2 separate regions of the Homo sapiens genome follow, and region 1 is linked to region 2. Evidence: fine-mapped expression QTL. A gene starts in region 2. The other region holds a variant in brackets. All regions are shown on one strand. Distances are between the middles of the regions. Region 1 overlaps MCM4 (minichromosome maintenance complex component 4). Region 2 holds the start of SPIDR (scaffold protein involved in DNA repair).

Evidence for each region. PIP is the estimated chance that this variant, and not a neighbour inherited with it, causes the effect.
Region 1: its variant is fine-mapped to the expression of SPIDR in lung (TOPMed, PIP 0.95).

The regions. Positions count from the first base shown.
Region 1 is chr8:47,974,108-47,983,605 of GRCh38, reverse strand. It overlaps MCM4 (minichromosome maintenance complex component 4), which reads right to left. Exons shown (of 17, transcript NM_182746.3): 15 at 8,644-8,872; 16 at 7,758-7,891; 17 at 5,446-6,920. The coding sequence ends at 6,828. It also overlaps the pseudogene RNU6-519P. Among named protein-coding and RNA genes, the nearest start is that of MCM4, 18 kb to the right of the region's middle. RefSeq lists a silencer at 9,482-9,498. The variant A/G (reference allele first, on the strand shown) is at 6,470.
Region 2 is chr8:47,255,604-47,265,245 of GRCh38, reverse strand. SPIDR (scaffold protein involved in DNA repair) reads right to left here and starts at 4,308. Exons shown (of 20, transcript NM_001080394.4): 1 at 4,255-4,308. The coding sequence starts at 4,287. RefSeq lists a silencer at 4,045-4,594.

The DNA.
Region 1 (9,498 bases), 720 kb before region 2:
GTCCAGCTAATTTTTTGTATTTTTAGTAGAGACAGGGTTTCACCATGTTAGCCAGGATGGTCTCGATCTCCTGACCTTGTCATCTGCCCACCTTGGTCTCCCAAAGTGCTGGGATTATAGGCGTGAGCCACTGCGCCTGGCCAATATTTTTTTAAAGATGGGGTGTTGGCTGGGCTCGGTGGCTCACATCTCTAATCCCAGCACTCTGGGAAGCTGAGGTGGTGTATCACCTGAGGTCAGGAGTTCGAGACCAGCCTGGCCAACATGGTGAAACCCCATCTCTACTAAAGATATAAAAAATTAGCCTGGCGTGGTGGCGCATGCCTGTAATCCCAGCTACTCGGGAGGCTGAGGCAGGAGAACAGCTTGAACCCGGGATGTGGAGGTTGCAGTGAGCTGAGATCATGCCACCGCACTCCAGCCTGGGCAACAGAGTGAGACTCTGTCTCAAAAAAAAAAAAAATTAGCTTGGCACAGTGGCACACGCCTGTAGTCCCAGCCAGCTAGCCGGGAGACTGAGGTGGGAGGATCAATTGGGTCCTGGAGGTCAAGGCTGCAGTGAGCTGTGATTGCACCACTGCACTCCAGTCTGGGTGAGATAGGTTAAGATCCTATCTCAAACAAAACAAAACAAAACACCTCCCCTAAACCCACAAACTTTCCAACTGGGGCCACCATAATTCTAATTTTTTTTTTTTTTGAGACTGCATATCACTCTTGTTGCCCAGGCTGGAGTGCAACAGCACGATCTTGGCTCACTGCAACCTCGCCTCCCAGGTTCAAGCGATTCTCCTGCCTCAGCCTCCTGAGTAGCTGAGATTACAGGCATGTACCACCATGCCCAGCTAATTTTGTATTTTTAGTAGAGATGGAGTTTCAACATTTTGGTCAGGCTGGTCTCGAACTCCTGACCAGAGGTGGTCTACCTGCCTCGGCCTCCCAAAGTGCTGGGATTACAGGTGTGAGCCACCGCAACTAGGCATTATTTTTTTACCATATGTACCCATATCTCTAGAAATGCACAGGTTCTGAGCAGGAGTCCCAGACTCCTTGGATTCAGATGAACCTATTATTTTCTGACTTCTTGAAACATTACCTACCTGAGACTTCCCGCAGAACCCAGGTTGAATCCAATCTGATGTCTGGCCCTAGTCTGAATGAAAAATGCTCAAATAAACTCCTAAGTTGCCACAAGTTGTGAAAACTTGTATCTATCAAGGGGGCTTATCGATGCAGGTAGAAAAACAAGCACAATGGCTTCACCAGTGCCCCTACAGGTGGCTCATTGCTGCAGGTGCCACCCTCAGTGCCCTCCTTCAGATCCTCACTTCTGACAGGGCTACTATGAGATAAACTTAGGCATATATATTCAAATTTTAAAGTTTATTTGAGCAGACAAGGCAGCACCAGACCATAAGAAAACCTTCGTAAGGTGTTCATGGAAGCAAGACAAGTTTAAAAAAAAAATATATATATATATGTATTTATTTATTTATATATTTATATTTAATCCCTGAATAGCTGGGATTACAGGTGTAAGCCACCAAGCCCGGCTATAAAATATATTGAATGCAGGGGCTGGGCACGGTGGCTCACACCTGTAATCCCAGCACTTGGGGAGGCCGAGGTGGGCAGATCACCTGGAGTTCGAGACCAGCCTGGCCAACATGGTGAAACCCTGTCGCTACTAAAAATACAAAAATCAGCCAGGTGTGGTGGCACACGCCTGTTGTACCAGCTACTCGGGAGGCTGAGGCAGAAGAATTGCTTGAACCTGGGAGTTGGAGGCTGCAGTGAGCTGAGACCACACCATTGCACTCCAGTCTGGGTAACAGAGTGAGACTGTCTCAAAAACAACAACAACAACAACAACAACAACTACAAAAAAAAAAAAAAGGAAATCGAGGGAACATATGAACAAAAATGAGAATATCAACAAAGAGATAGAAATTACTAAAACGAGGCCAGGAACAGTTGTTCATGCCTGTAATCCCAGGCATGATTACAAAAAAAAAAAAAAATTAGCCAGGCATGGTGGCACACGTTTGTAATCCCAGCTACTCAGGAGACTGAGACAGGAGAACCACTTGAACCCATGAGGTGGAGGTTGCAGTGAGCCAAGATTGGTTCTGTTCAGCCTGGGCGACAGGAAAAAAAAAAAAAAAAAAAAAAAAAAAGCATCCATTAAAGGCTGGGTGCAGGGGCACATACTTGTAATCTTAGTATTTTGGGAGGCAGACGCAGGATGATTGCTGAGGCCAGGAGTTTGAAAAAAGCCTGGGCAAGGTAGCAAGACCCCATCTCTAAAAATTAGCTAGGCATCATGGTGTGTGCCTGTAGTCCCAGCTATTCAGGAGGCTGAGGTAGGAGGATCACTTGACCCCAGGAGTTTGAGGCTGCAGTGAGCTACGATCACACCACTGCACTCCAGCCTGGGTGACAGAGGGATACCCTCTGTCTTTAAAAAAAAAAAAAAAAAAAAAAGGCCGGGCACGATGGCTCACACCTATAATCCCAGCACTTTGGGAGGCCGAGGTGGGCGGATCATCTGAGTCCAGGAGTTCAAGACCAGCCTGGCCAACATGGTGCAACCCCGTCTCTACTAAAAATAAAAAAAATTAGCTAGGCCTGGTGGTGGGCGCCTGTAATCCCAGCTACTAGGGAGGCTGAGGCAGGAGAATCGCTTGAACCCGGGAGGTGGGGGTTGCAGTGAGCTGAGATCGCACCACTGCACTGCAGCCTGGGTGACAGAGACAGGCTCTGTTTCAAAAAAACAAAACAAAACAAAACAAAACAAAACAAAAAAGCAAACTTGATAAAATAATATCATTAAAGGAATGTCAGAGTGAAGGGTATATGGAAACTATACTGTTCTTGCAACTTTTGTGTAAGTTTGAAATTATTTCTATTTTTTTTTTTTTTTGAGATGGGAGTCTTGCTCTGTTGCCCAGGCTGGGATGCAGTGGTATGATCTTGGCTCACCACAACCTCTGCCTCCCGGGTTCAAGCGATTCTACTGCCTCAGCCTCCTGAATAGCTGGGACTACAGGCACGCACTACCATGCCCGGCTAATTTTTTTTTTGTATTTTTAGTAGAGACGGGGTTTCACTATGTCAGCCAGGCTGGTCTTGAACTCCTGACCTCGGGTGATCCATCCGCCTCAGCCTCCCAAAGTGCTGGGATTACAGGTGTGAGCCACAGTGCCTGGTCATGAAATTAGTTCAAAATAATAGTTTAAAAAACTGAATTACAGAAGAATTTTAAGAGTTTCTTAGATTTAGTAAGCAACAGCAGTTTTTAAAAGTATTTCCTAACTGATGTGCTGAGTCATTAAATTCTGGGTTTCCTCATTCCTCTTATTAGTTGTGTACTCCTTTAGATGGAGTTGGTTTTATCTATGATGGATGCTGAAGGAGAATGGCACATGCATTCTCCAATCAAATAAAGCAAGTCGTTTTAATTAGCAATACTAGATATCTCCTGGGTTCCATGAGATTATGAGGCATACCCTCTAAGGGAATACTTATAAGAATTTATGGGGCAGGACTGTAATTCCTCTTATTCCTCCACTCTACAGCCTAATACTTCGCTGTTTTCAAGAATGCCTTCTGACTTTTACACCTTCACCCTCCTTTCATAGGAGTTATCTCTACTAACATGTAACAAGCATCTAGCGCCAAGCACCAGGTACTGCACTGAAGGATACGACCATTCCTTCTCTCAAGAAACTTATGACCAGTAGGCAGGTTACAGACATAAACAAGTTTGCTAAATAACTACAATTTTTTTTTTCTTTTGAGATGGAGTCTCACTCTGTCACCCAGGCGAGTGCAAGGGCATGATCTCGTCTCACTGCAACCTCCGCCTCCTGGGTTCAAGTGATTCAGCCTCCTGAGTAGCTGGGATTACAGGCACCTGCCACCATGCCCAGCTAATTTCTGTATTTTTAGTAGAGATGGAGTCTCACCATGTTGGTCAGGCTGGTCTCGAACTCCTGACCTCTTGATCCGCCTGCCTCGGCATCCCAAAGTGTTGGGATTATAGGCGTGAGCCATTGTGCCTGGCCAAATTTTAGTTTTTATTGAAAGTATAGAATGCTTCATGGATTTGTGTGTCAAACTTTGTGCAGGGGCCATGATAATCTTTTGTGTATCATTCCAATTCTCACATATGTGTGGCTGAAGCAAGCACTGAATTATTTTAGACTCTGGAGAAAACAAAGTTTACTGAATTAAACTGAGATTCACTATGATGGAACCTGACAGCAACAGGACAACCCCATTATTTTCATTCTACTAAAATCCCCTTAAAATGAAACTATACACACACTTCATCTACAGTTGAATATACCTTCAACTTGGTATTCAAATACTAGGTTTAGAAAAATATTACTAGTACATAAACTTCAGGGGGAAATCATCTTAGTCAATAAGTACAGATTATTTAATTATTGTTCGACTTATGATTTTTCAACTTTACATGGTATAAAGCTGTTACAATTTCAATGTTCTTCAAATTTTGAATTTTGACTGACCTTTTCTTGTGTTACCAATGTGGTACACAAGACATTTAACACTTTATTTGAGACAGTATCACACCATCGCCAGGCTGGAGTGCAGTGGCATGATTTCCGCTCACTGTAACCTCCACCTCCGGGGTTCAAGCAATTCTCCTGCCTCAGCCTCCTGAGTAGCTGAGATTATAGGCACTCACCACCACACTGAGCTAATTTTTTTTTTATTTTTAGTAGAGACAGGGTTTGGCCATGTTGGCCAGACTGGTCTTGAACTCCTCACTTCAGGATCCACCTGCCTTGGCCTCCCAAAGTGTTGGGATTACAGGCGTGAGCCACTGCACCCAACCGTAACACTTTATTGTAAAATAGGCTTTGTTTTGCACTATTTTACTCAACCATAGGCTGATTTAAGTATGCTCAGCCTTTTTAAGGTAGGCTAGGCTAAGGTATGTTTGGTAGATTAGGTGTATTAAAAACATTTTCGACTTAGGATATTTAATACAGCATTCTACTGCTAACATTTTAATGCTATTTAAATATTCAATTAGATCTTTTTTTTTTTCTTTTTTTGAGATGGAGTCTCACTCTGTTGCCCAGCCTGGAGTGCAGTGGCATGATCTCGGCTCACTGCAAGCTCCGCCTCCTAGGTTCATGTCATTCTCCTGCCTCAGCCTCCAGAGTAGCTGGGACTACAGGTGCCCGCCACCAGGCCCGGCTAATTTTTTTTGTATTTTTAGTAGAGACGGGGTTTCACAGTGTTAGCCAGGATGGTCTCGATCTCCTGACCTCATGATCCAGCCATCTCGGCCTCCCAAAGTGCTGGGATTACAGGTGTGAGCCACCGCGCCCGGCCAGATCTATCATTTTCTATGGATACTTTATTAAAAAATGTTGATTCCAAGTTATAAAAAAGGCCCAACTCATATGATTTAAAGGTTTCAGAAATTATTTATTGTAGTAGTACTTACACGTAAGATTTTAGCCTATGGTCATTTTATAAAGATGACTGTTAGGATTTAATTCACATTTAAAGAAAATGAGATTCGTTATATTATGGTGTTTTTTATGACCTATAAAATACTTACCCCTACAAATTTCCATAAATGTAGTGGTTAGTAAAGCTTTTTTCTTACTGAAAAATAATGCCAGGTAACCAAGTATTATTCCTTCCATCATTTATTTAGGAAAAAGTTTTATGTATTAGGGTAAAGTGGTAGAAGTTAACCTAGAATCTAATAATCTCCAATCACCCATTCCTGATCTAATAGTAGCCATGAGAAAAAATCTCTAGAAAGAATCATACCTCTCAAAAAATAAAAAATAAAACAAAGGCTGGGTGCAGTGGCTCACACCTGTAATCTCAGCACTTCCGGAAGTTGAGGTGGGCAGATCGCTTGAGCCTAGGCATATCGCTTGCAGCCTGGGCAACGTGGCGAAGCCGTCTCTACCAAAAAATACAAAAAGTAGCCGGGCATAGTGACATACACCTGAGCCCAGGAGGTTAAGCCTACATTGAGCCGTGATTGTACCAGTGTACTCTAGCCAGGGTGACAGAGTAAGACCCTATCTCAAAAAAAGAAGTGCCATAAAAAAGAAAGGCTCTAGCCCTTTACCAATGAGGTGATATGCCCAGGCTATGCCTGTCATCAAATCCATAAGCATACTGATGATGGCCATGAGAAAGTCCAGCACACAAACCATGCCCCAGACTGCATCTGTGCATACACAGAGTAAAAGCCCTGCTGCTATACTATAAAATGGCACCTGAAAATAATCTCTACGGTATGTTTGAAAATTGGCAGGTTTTTTTTTTTTTTTTTTTTTTGAGACAGTCTCACTCTATTGCTGAGGCTGGAGTGCAGTGGCGCGATCTTGGCTCACTGCAACCTCTGCCGCCTGGGTTTAAGCGATTCTCCTGCCTCAACCTCCCGAGTAGCTGGGATTACAGGCGC[A/G]TGCCATCAAGCCCAGCTAATTTTTTGTTATCTTTACTAGAGACGGGGTTTCACCATCTTGGCTAGGCTGGTCTTGAACTCCTGACCTCATGATCCACCCACATTGGCCTCCCAAAGTGCTGGGATTACAGGTGTGAGCCACCGCGCCCGGCCAGCATAGTATTTTTATTTATAACGTGAAAAAAATGAAAACAGATACTTCACTACAAATATTGAACCCAAGTTAGAAAATTTTTATGCAGCCAAACCATGACTTTAAGCTCTATTTACACTGATGGCGGCCAACTGAGATGCAGACCACACCCATGTGGCGTGCAGCAAGCAGGACATGCAGGGAGCCTTCCTTGCTCACAAGGCTTCAGAGCAAGCGCACGGTCTTCCCAGTCACTGTCAGGAAATCATCATCTGCCAGGGCACGCAGTGCTTCTTCAAACATATCTTTAGTAATTGCCTGTGGGGAAGAGAAAGAAAATAAATATTGTACACGTCAAGTCCCTCCTTTACCTGTTAGAAACACAATAATTATAATGTTAAAGTACCACCCAGAATCTTTCTCTTTTTGGTGGCTGTACACATGCCTTATGCTCTAAATCAGGAGTGGAGTAGCCAGATGGTCCATGTGGTAGACTTGGCATCTGTATAGTCCACGTTGTAACTATCAACTCTGCCCTCTCAGTCACAACACAGCGATGGAAAGTGGACCAGCACTGAAAGACTGCATAGTTCTTTTCACTAAACAACTACCTTACTTATTTACAAAAGGACACCCAAATATTTCATACCTAAAGCAAACTTATAACAACTATGAAAGGGGCATAACAATTTTTTCTTTTTTTTTTTTTTTGAGATGGAGTTCCGCTCTGGTGCCCAGGCTGGAGAGCAATGGTGGGATCTCAGCTTACTGCAACCTCCGCCTCCCAGGTTCAAGCAATTCTCCTGCCTAAGCCTCCTGAGTAGCTAGGATTTCAGGTGCTTATCACCACATCCAGCTAATTTTTGTATTTTTAATAGAGACAGGGTTTCACCATATTGGTCAGGCTGGTTTCAAACTCCTGGCTGCAAGTGATCTGCCCACCTCAGCGTCCCAAATGAGATTACAGGCGTGAGCTACTGCACCCAGCCAAAAATTTTAATTGTGATTATTTCTTGATGATGGCTTATGGTTCATCTTCCTTTTCTTCATTCTTCTCTATATTTATTATTTAATAAATAAAGGAAAAAAACCCAAAAGCAATATTAAGGAAAAAGAGAAAGCTCTATCAAACAAAAAATACATATAAACACTTACTATGTCAGATTGTCCCCGAATATCTTCAAAAAGTTGCTGGTATTTTAGAGCTGGTGTTTTGCCCTTAGATAAAATAAGCTTTTTCAATGCTTCAGCTAATTCTTCTTTCCGTTTACGAGAGGTGGCACTCATCCCTGATTTAAAAAGAAATCAATGAAAACATTTTTGCTATTATGAAATGAAATGCTTCAAATTCTCAAAAATATTCCTTTAGTAGTATCACCTAGAAAGATAAGGCGACAGGGGCTGAGTACATTTGAAGGGAATGAGTTTTTAATTATTTGGAAATTTCTGTAAGCCACTAGCTGCTGCTTTCCTTAACAGTCTACACATCTGTGCAGCAAGCAGCTGCTGCTAAGAAACAAACAACTTCTCTAAAATGGGTTAACAAAACTTCCCAGACAGTCAAGGAGACAGAATCTCCTTAAAACTATACACAAAACTGGAATTGAACAATGAGAACACACGGACACAGGAAGGGGAACATCACACACCAGGGCCTGTTGTGGGGTGGGGGGAGGGGGGAGGGATAGCATTTGGAGATACACGTAATGTTAAATGACGAGTTACTGGGTACAGCACACCAACATGGCACATGCGTACATATGTAACTAAACTGCACGTTGTGCACATGTACCCTAAAACTTAAAGTATAAAAAAAAAAAACAAAAAAAAACTATACACAAAACTGTGTGTGTTAATCAATATTTTTATCAAGATAAGATTAAAGGGCAACTTTCATCAGATTCTCAAAGGGGTCCTAATCCAAAAAAGGTTAAGAACTTCTGTTTCAAATGATTTAACTGTTAGCTTAAATCTGACATATAAACTACATGCATATTGAAATAATTTTCAAAAGCTTTTCTGTTCACTGAAAATAACGAACCCGTAGTAAGAATAGATATGTCCACGATGCCAGTCCGGGGATCAGTTGCAGACTGCTTCAGAGCTTCCCGATGGAGGCGTTTGGCCTCTTCCACATCAATGGCTTCAACTTTGTTAGACAATCTTACTTTAGCATGGGCTTCTGCTAAGCGGATTAATGACTCTAGCTGTCGAGGGTATGCAGAAACCATTCCCCGGCTACTGCCAATCTTCCTCATGTCTACATAAGCCTATTGTAGGTAGAAAAACAAAAGCAAAAGCAAACCTCCTTGGTGACAACTTTAGTTTTGTGGGTGAATTTTGAACACTTAGGCTTCCATTAAGTAAACGGAACTCAGATATGGTCCTGGGCCCCGGAGCTCATCAAGTGGTAGAGACTACACAGACAGACCACAGAAATCGCAGGTGAAGACATCAACGTGCAGCGTGCAGTGGTGGGTGAACATATTCCAACTGGGAGATGCTTGGGAAGAATTCTTGGAGAGGGTGGCATCTAACGTAGCTCTGAAGAACAGAGACGGGCATGGCGTGGCAGAGGGAAGGAATGTGGCATGTGGGGAGAGGAGAAGGCTGTGAGCACTCATAGGGAGAATCAGGCCTGTCTGGGAAAAGTGCTCACATGGGGCACAATGGGGCTCATAAGGATTGCTGGGAGAATGCTGCAAAGGTAAGTTGTATCAATTTCACATACAGATGACACAGTCTTATTTCTTCATTAACAACCCCCAAGACTATGACACACAAAAAAATTACATAATGTCTGTAACTTTCATCTTAGAATTTTTAGGAGCTCAGTTAGGATGCAAAGCTCATCAAAGCACCAGGAACCTTCTTAATATCACAATGCTTGAATAAC
Region 2 (9,642 bases):
TGCACCCCAGCCTGGGCGACAGAGTAAGACTGTCTCAAAAAAAAAAAAAAAAAAAAAGACAACTGAGATGTCAATACTAAGTAGTCTAATTCTGAGATGTAGAGCCACCAGTAAATCATTCAATGAGACTATCAAGGCCTTAAACTGGAACCATGAGGTACTCCTACCAAGATAACTATGAGAATTTCCTGCCATCACTGAAAAACTTGAAAATGAGCCTTTTTCCTATTTCTTGTTCAAGAAGCTGAAAGACAGCAATTCCAGGGAAATCTAGAGACAAAGCAGTAGAGGATGTACAATATCTTTGTCCTCATATGATTTCTTTAATTATCATGGTGTTTCATTATTAATTGCTTTCATTATCACCAACATTTATTGAGTGTTTATATGCTCGGTATATCATCGCATGCATTCTCATAATTTAATCCTCACATCAACCCAGCAATATAGGTATTAACCCCATTTTATAAAGAAACGACAACTCAATGTTAGGTATATTGCCCTATTCAGAGAACTTGAACCCAGGAGACAGTGGTTGCAGTGAGCCGAGATCGGGCCACTGCACTCCAGCCTGGGTGGCTGAGCAAGACTCCATCTCAAAAAAAAAAAAAGAAAATCTCAAAAGGCAAGCTGCTGCCCAAGAACAGGAGTATATGTGGTCGTCCTTGGCTACTTCATAAGGAAAGGGAGAACACAAGGCACAAAGGGAAGAATCACAGCATGTTAAGGGATAGTGAGGGGCTAGGGCAGGAGAAACTCATGGAGGAGAGGGGAGTGAGGAAAGAACTAAGATACCCCAGCCTTTGAGCAACTGACTGCCCTAATCTCCCTGGGACTTAAATACCACATATCTATATATGTGATATATAGGATATATCTATATATCCTAACATCAGTTAAGAGGCAAACAACTTTCTCACTTCTCATAGGTTCGACTTTCTGAATCACCATGGGTTTCCTCCTCTTCCTCTTTCAATTGCAGTTGCCTAAATCTCACCTTCCATTTGTAGTCTGTCAACCCAGTCCTTTCTATTCTATTCCTAATTCCACCACCTTAGTCCATAACCACACCACCTTTCATCTTAAGAGTCGTGATATATCTGTGTGGCTTGTCCAAAACTGCAAAATCATTCAGCTGTACTGCTGAGGCAGATATCCGAGTCTTCGGACTAGGGTATTTCCTCCTGTTTCTTCACACCTGGAATACTTGCAAATCTTCTAAACTAGTTCTCCTTTCATTAATTCATCAGATATCTAGTACATACAAGGGATATGACAGGTATTCTGGGGAATATGGGCTGAAGAAATAGTCCCTAATCTTAAATGTCTAGAATATAAGGGAATAAAGGTGTAGACACAAATAAACCTAATGTAAGACATGGAATAGTAAGAGTTATTTACATAAAATTCCACAGACTACAGAAGAAAGTTCATTTACAGCTGGGATAATTTGGGAGGTGAAATTTGGGGTGGGCCTCAATGGATGACTAAGATTCCAATCAGCAGAAATGGGAGAACTGGCATTATTCCAAACCAAGAACATACAGAAGAAAGTTCATTTATAGCTGGGATAATTTGGGAGAAGGTGGGATTTGAAGTAGGCCTCAATGGATGATTAAGATTTCATGGCCGGGCGCAGTGGCTCACGCCTGTAATCCCAGCACTTTGGGAGGCCGAGGCGGGCGGATCACGACGTCAGGAGATCGAGACCATCCTGGCTAACACGGTGAAACCCTGTCTCTAATAAAAATTTAAAAAAAATTAGCCCGGTGTGGAGGCTGGCGCCTGTACCGAGATCGCGCCACTGCACTCCAGCCTGGGCGACAGAGCGAGACTGCGTCTCAAAAAAAAAAGGTTTCAATCAGCAGAAATGGGAGAACTGGCATTATTCCAAACCAAGAACATACGCAATTACCACCAAGGGGCAAGCAAGTACAGTGACGCAGTAGTCTAGTTTACCTATAAGATAAATAATGAGCAAAGCTGTAAAGGAATAAGACACAGATATTATGGAGGCTGTGAATAACAGGCTGAGAGCCTGAACAAAAGCAAGGTCTGGGGCAGACTACCTGGATACAAATCCTAGCTTCTTCCCTTAACTGCTGTGTGACCTTAGGCAAATTACTTAGCCTCTCTGCTGAGCCTCAGTTTCCTCATCCATAAAATGAGACTAATGGTATCTACCTCACAGGACTGTTAAAATAATTAAATTAGTTAATACATATAAAGCACTAAACACAGGATAAGTTCTGCAGTAAATTATGATGTAGCCAATAAGAAGTAAAATGAGATTTAGATAGAGGACTAACAATATAATCAAAGTAGTGCCTAAGGGAAAGTCACCTCTGAAGATGGAATGGGAGCATGCTAGCCGGCACTACACATCAACACTCCAACCATTAAGTACTTTTGAGACTGACCGAGGGAGACAGAAACAAAAAATAAATTCCTGGGAAATACTGTGGAAGCCAGCCTCCAAGGTGGCCCCTGTGATCCCCACCTCCTGGGGACCCTCTATAGTCTCCTCATACATTGTACCGGGTTGGTCCATGTAATGAATAGACAGGAGATGGGATGTCACTTCTGAGTTTAGGCTATAAAAGACACGGGGACCGATATCTTGTTGCTCTCTCTCTTGCTCTTGGGAAAGCCAGGACCCTGTTGTGAGCTGCCCTATGCAGCTGTCAAGAAACAACCACGTGAGTGAGCTTGGAACTGGATTCTCCAGCTCCAACGACCCTTTATTTGACTGCAGCCTTGTGGGAGATCCTGAACTACAACCACTTAGTTGAGCCGTTCTCAGATTCCTGAGTCTCAGAAACTCTATGATATAATAAACATTTGTTATGAACTGCTTCAGTTTTCAGCAACGTATTACACAATAGACAACTGTACGACTACTAAAAAAAATTGAGTAAAAAAAAAGAGTCTTGAAAAATGACAAGATGAAGAGACCAGAAGTGAACGTCAATTCAAAAATACTAAGATTTCTAAGTCAAGAGAAACTGTTAGGGCCTGGAGGACTAAGGGTGAGATGATGATTATGTGATGCACTAAGTTTGAGCTCTAGGGAAAGATCTAATATAGATCTGAAAGTCATCTATATAGTTAACTTCAATGTATGACATTGTCCAAAGCAAATATGGAACATGTGAAAAAGCACAAGGTCAAAAATTAGAACATGGCACGAACACAGTAAAGAGAAGAAAATGAGCTGTTGCAAGACAGGAAAACAATCATGGATGTTCCAAAAGAAATAAAAGCAGGTGGTGAATGTGTCAAACGCTCCAATGATCAAGTAAACAACTTACACTGGATTTAGCAAATTTATATATTTCCTTGATTTTTTTCACACATTAATGCTTCAGAAATCAGACTGTATCTTATAATCAAGAGGTGCCTGAAATGAATTTCTTTATTCCCTAAAGCCAGTCACAAAACTGATAGTGTGGGCTGATAATCAATGGTATTTGAGAAGCGAGAAAGCATGGTAGTGGTAAAGAAGTTGAACCAGTATATGTGGTCTATTTTTTCCAGGAAGTTTTCAAGTAAAGGCAAGAGTCAAGAAAGGAGGTCCTGTGTTTGCTTTTTAAAAACCGTTTTACTATGAGACAAACGTATTTGAAAGCAAGGAAGTTAGAAGAAACTTTAAAACGATAAAGGACACATGCCATGACAAGCACAATTAGCAGAACAAAAAAGGATGCACTCGCGGATACAGGTGCAATCAAACACCATTCAAGCAACGATTCCTAGGCACCCGCTCCCGTTCTGGAACCCGAGGCAGCGCGGTGCCCACGGATTGGGCAGTCAGCCGCACAGTCCCCTCCGAGTGCGGCAGGAAGAGAGACAGAGTTGACAGTGGATTATCCGCGGAGACGGGTAAAACCACGCCAGGATTCCCTGCGGTTTGGTACATTACACCAGAATCAAAAAGAGACAAGAGTAAGGCCAAGTACCCCCGAGGCGGACATATGCTCCCGCCCGCTGCGTCCCTCGGCGGTCCCACCCCTCGCTTTCCGTACCGCCGCTGAGGGCCCGGCCCGCACGCCTGGACCGGAGCCGGACCTGGGGGCGGTACCCCACTGCGCGGGCTTGCTCCACGCGCGCAGACGGGACCCGCCACCACCTAGCCCTTCACCCCCAACGCCCACCCTCTCTCACCCCAGCACAACGGGGCCAGCCCCGCGCCGGCCCGCCGCTTCCCCGCAACGCGGGAAACGGCGCGGCGCCCACTCCCGCCCCAGAGCCTACCTTAGAGCCCCGAGCGCGGCTGCCGCGGGGCATCTCCGGGAGCGCCGCCTGAGCGCACCGCCTCCTCAGCGCGCCGCCGTCCCACCTCGGCGCGCCGCACCGCGCCCTGCCATTGGCGGGCGCTCGGGCGCAGGGCGGGGCTTCGGCGGGGGGCAGGGCTTCTCCGGCCCCGGCGCTCCAGGGCCTCCCGGATGGCCTAGTCGGGCCCGGAGCCCGGAAGGAGTGCCCCGCGGAGAGTCGAGCTTCCTTCCCCGGGGCTGGGGGTTCCGCGGAGCTCGCTCTGGGCTGTGGCGTTGCTCGCCCGCGAGCTCCTGGGGAGTTCGGGGGAGCTGCTGGGCTGGTGCCTGGAGCGGGGGCCGCCTCCAAGTATTGTCTTTCGAATTAAGTTACTGTCGTCTGTGTTGTCAGGCAACAACTGACCTTAAATAAAAATGAAAACCAGAAGTAGGCTACACATGCAATAGGCTACACATGCAATAATGGATACTTAAGGAATGGGAGTGGCTGCTGGTGACTGGAGCAGAGAGGGTGTGGTTTCCCCATGTTTCGGGGCCGGGGGGAAGGAGTAAAGTCTGTGTTCAGAGCCCAGACGCCATGTCGGTCATCACATCACCGGGAGAACTCGTGGAGCCTGAGGAAAGGCTACGGGGTGCCAGAGTCTGAAGGGGCGGAAGATTGCATTCCTATCACGTTCGCCGTGGCGCACAGGGGCTCCGCTGGGGCCGCCGCTCCCGCAGGAGAAGTGGGCCTGAGACGGTGCGGCGTCGACCATAGCCGGCCCAGCAGAAGCCGGGGAAGGCCACAAGTGTAACTGGGTCCGAGTACTGTGAAGAAGGCGCCTCCCATGGAGAAAGCTACCGGGTAGTTTAACAAGGTGGAAAAGCGTTGGCCTGGGGAGGAGGAAAGGATGCTCAGAAAGTTGCCTCAAAAGGACGCAGAAGTGGAGGTGAATCTTCTGTTTCAGAGGCATTTTTTTGTGCCTCTGTGAGAATGCATTGCTTCCTGGTTGATCCATCTTCAGGTTTTCTCTCCGTCCTAGTCCCTGTTCTGCCACCATTCTGTGTTTGAATCTGGTACCTAAAGCCGCAGATACTTGGTTCATAGTAGATGTCCACTCTGCAGTGGCTGAAAACACGGAAGAAAAACCATCTTTGCCTGGGAAGGACATTATTGCTAGTGCCATTACTGTCAACAGTTGGAACAAGATAAACGGCATGCCCAATCTAGTTGAGGATTTTGGACACCGGGCCTCCCACTGGGACTCCGCCGAGAAACCAGGTCTGCCATTGCCACCTCCGCCGGGCCTTGCTGTCTTAGCACAGTAAGTGCACCCGACCGCGCCCGGAGTCCCCCTTTCACTCCCACAACCAGGCCTGTGGTGAGGCTCCCGCTTGTCATCTCCACCAGGAGGTGCTGTCCTGCCGAAATGTTGGGGTTTTTCTCCAAACTTCCTCCTGTTCAGAATTCGCCATCTCAGTAGTGGCATGGACATCCACCTGGCCACAGCTCACGCAGAAACCTAGGAATTTTTGTGAACACGTTTGTGTGTCTTACTAATGTGTCCACTCTCCACTACCACTGTTTCCCAGGCCACTAGTATCTTTTGCCCAGACTGCTAGTAGCTCTTAACCCATGTCCCCTAATCCACTCTTGCCCCTCACACAGCACACACATACAATCCATTCTCAACACAGACACCACAGTGAGGTTTATGCTGTCTATACTGGCCTTCCCTTTCGGTGGTCAAACGTGCCTAGCTCCTGCAGCCTTGGGGTCTAATAAGCATTTGCTCTTCCTTTTGCCTAAAAGGCTCTGGCCTCCCTCTGCCATGCCATTTCCTATGCGCCTGTCAAACCTGAACCTGGTGGCCAGCTTCCCTAAACTAGCAAGCCTGAACCTCCCTGCTCTTCCATGTCCGCAGGACCTCATGCTCTGTTGAAGATGTTATAACAATTAGAATCTAAATAATTACGAAAGTTATTTGTTTACCATGTGGTTCCACCTCCATGCTGTAAGGTAATACCATTTCTATCTTCTCCGTTTTTGTATCTCTATCAGTTAGCACAGCGTCTTCCATATACAAAGTACTCAGTTATTTACTATGGATGAACTGCTAATTGTGAAACAGAAATGACTTGCCAGAGGCTGCACAGCTAGTAACTGTTCAGGATTAGAACTCATATGTGATACCAAGGTCGATGCATTCTCCACTACACCAATCAGATCATAGTAGAATCATGAGGAATTTTTCACTTGAACATATGAACTCAGCAAAAGGGAACTGTTGATAATAAAGATGAGCCCCTGCAGAAAGGGTCTCTTAAGTCCTCTCCAGTCTTGCCTCATTTCCTCCTCAGCAAACACTCAATGGCAAACATCAAGACAAACCAGAAAGTCCTTCTTTTAACTTTTTTCTCATCAAACTTTTTGGCCTAGTTGCTGTTCTGCAGATATCTGTGGTCTTCACTCTGCTTACAGCCATCCTAAGGATTCCATGGAGATCCATGGAGTCTGGGGAGGGTGTGACTCACAGGAGGGTCTCTGCTGCACCTTCAGGGCAGCTCTCTTCCATCTGTCTTATATATGGGGCAAGATTGTATTTAAAGAAAGATCTAATATGGGGAGAAATGTTTAGAATCTACTCATCCATATTCTTTTTTAGTCTGGTAGATGACAGTGCTCTAGGCTATAAATGAATCCAAGATTTAAACGTGAAAAAATGTCAAGGTATTAGAATAAAACATGACCAGATTCCTTTATAATCTTAGAGTGGGGGAAAGGGGAGAAAGTCTTTCCAACTATGACTCAAAATGTCCTAGTCGTAATAGGAAAGATTGATCGATTCAACTACATAAAAACCCTAATTTATGCATGGCAAAAAAAACACAGTAGGCAAAGACAAATGGCAAAATTAAAGAATAGTTCATATTGATGTTATATAGAAACAGCCCCCTAAAGTATAAATTACTCTTGGAGGAGTAAGCAAGAGTATTCCTTGGGGGAAACCCAGTAGAAAATGGGCAAAGGACAAGGGCAGTTCACAGAGAAAGGAACACAAATGGCTTTTATACATATGAAAAATGTACTGTCTCACTCATGACAAGAGAAATGCAAATTTAAACTGCACACCTACCATATTGGCTAAAATCTAAGTCCTGGACAACACATATTGGGGTAAGGGCCCTCTAATGTATTGCTAACAAAAGTACAAAATTATGCAACTCCTATCAAATATGCTTCAAAATTATAAGTGTATTTACTCTTTAAGCTAGCAGTCCTACTTCTGGAAACTAATCCTACACATACACCTGCACACATATTGTCTTAGTCTGTTTTGTGCTGCTATAACAGAATATCTGAGACTGGGTAGTTTACAAAGAACAGATACTTACTTTCTCACTCTGAGAAATCTGAGATCAAGGAGCTGGCATTTGGTGTCTGGTGTGGGCCTTCCTGCTGCATCTTCACATGGCAGAAGGCAGAAGGGCAAGAAAGCAAGCTAGCTGAATGCTGCGTGAAGCCTCTTATAAGGGCCTTAATCCTATTAGTGATGGAGGAGCCTTCATGGCCTATTTGGCAACACCTGAATTTTAGAGGATACACATATGAAATGATAACACATGTGAAATGATATGTATGTAAGGGTATTTTTTGCAGCATAGTTTGCAATAGCAAAAGACTAGAAAAAATTGATATATTTGTTTACTTGGAGAGTAAGGAGACTGTTAAATGTGCCATGGTAATACCTTCATAATGATCTCCAGCTTTACTAAATGAAAAAAACAATTGACAGAATATGATTCATAGTGTGCTGCCTCTCTAGTGCAAGAAAACAGGAAAAGACCATATATTGCTTATATCTGCTTGAAGAAATGCTACATCGAAATAGATGTATAGGAAATAAAAGGGGTTACCTGGTGGAGGGGAGGAACCAAGTGATTGGGATGAGGGGAGGAGGACTTCTCCATCTCTACTTTTTTATGTTGTTTTGTATACCTATTTTTAAAACAGATTGAAAAATTAAGAAAAATGTGTACTTTGTTCTAGAGTGATGATGGTTGTACAACTGTGAATATTGTAACAAATCACTGAATGGTACACTTTAAAGGGTGATTTTATGGTATTTGAATTATATTTCAATAAAATAATTATTTTAAAAATGTTTGGTGAGGGGCTGGTAGCATCAGCAGCATCTGAGAAATTGTCAGAAATGCAAATTCTTGGACTCCATACTAGACCAATTGAATCAGAAACCTGGTGGACAAGGCCTGGCAATCTGTTTTGACAAGCCCTTCAACTGACTCTGATGCATGCTCACCTGTGAGAAGCACTGGACTGGATGCAATTGCACGGAGTAACAGGCTGTTGCACAGTGGTCTCCCACAAAACATCCGACTAGGAGATCCGTGCACTCAGGGTGGGAAGAAAAGGCCTTGTCAGCCTTTTCTTTAATCATTGACTACAATAATGTTAATAATAATAATATGACATTTATATGTGCAGGCAATGTTAATCCCTTTATATGAAATGAAAATAGTGCCTCACCTGATGGGTTAGAACACAGCAGATACATAGTAAGTGCCCAGGAAGTGTTAGCAATTATTATTATCATTTATCTCAGAAAATCTCTATGACAATTGTGTGAAGTACAATTATGATTACATATGAGATAATTGCACCACAGACATGTTATATAACTTGCAAAAAGCCACAAACCCAATAAGTGGTAAAGCCCAAAGCACAGAGGTTTTCAACTTTGGTGAATCTCACTTTATCTCTTTTTCCTGATCACACTTTGAGAACCATGGATCTAGGTTCTCAAAAGTATACAAATGGTTTATATATATATATATAAAAAGTAGGAGTGGAAAATAGAGTCAAATGCAGATTATTCAAGGAATGTGCATTCATTCATTCAACAAACAAATATTGAAGTTTACTATGTGCCAGGCCTATGTTAGGCCTTAGGCCTTAGTTGGTTTTCTTAGTCAATTTGGGTTACTATAACAACCCATCAACTAACAACCCATAACTGCATAGCTTAAAAAGAATAGAAATTTAGGCCAAGCACAGTCGCTCACACCTGTAATCCCAGCACTTTGGGAGGCCAAGGTGGGCAGATCACGAGGTCAGGAGTTCAAGACCAGCCTGGCCAACATAGTGAAACCCTGTCCCCACTAAAAATACAAAAACATTAGCCAGGCGTGGTAGTGGGGCCCCTGTAATCCTAGTTACTTGGGAGGCTGAGTCAAGAGAATCGCTTGAACCCGGGAGGCGGAGGTTGCAGTGAGCCGAGATTGCACAACTGCACACCAGCCCAGGCGACAGTGCGAGACTCCGTCTCAAGAAAAGAAAAAAAAGAATAGAAATTTATTTCTCAAAGTTCTG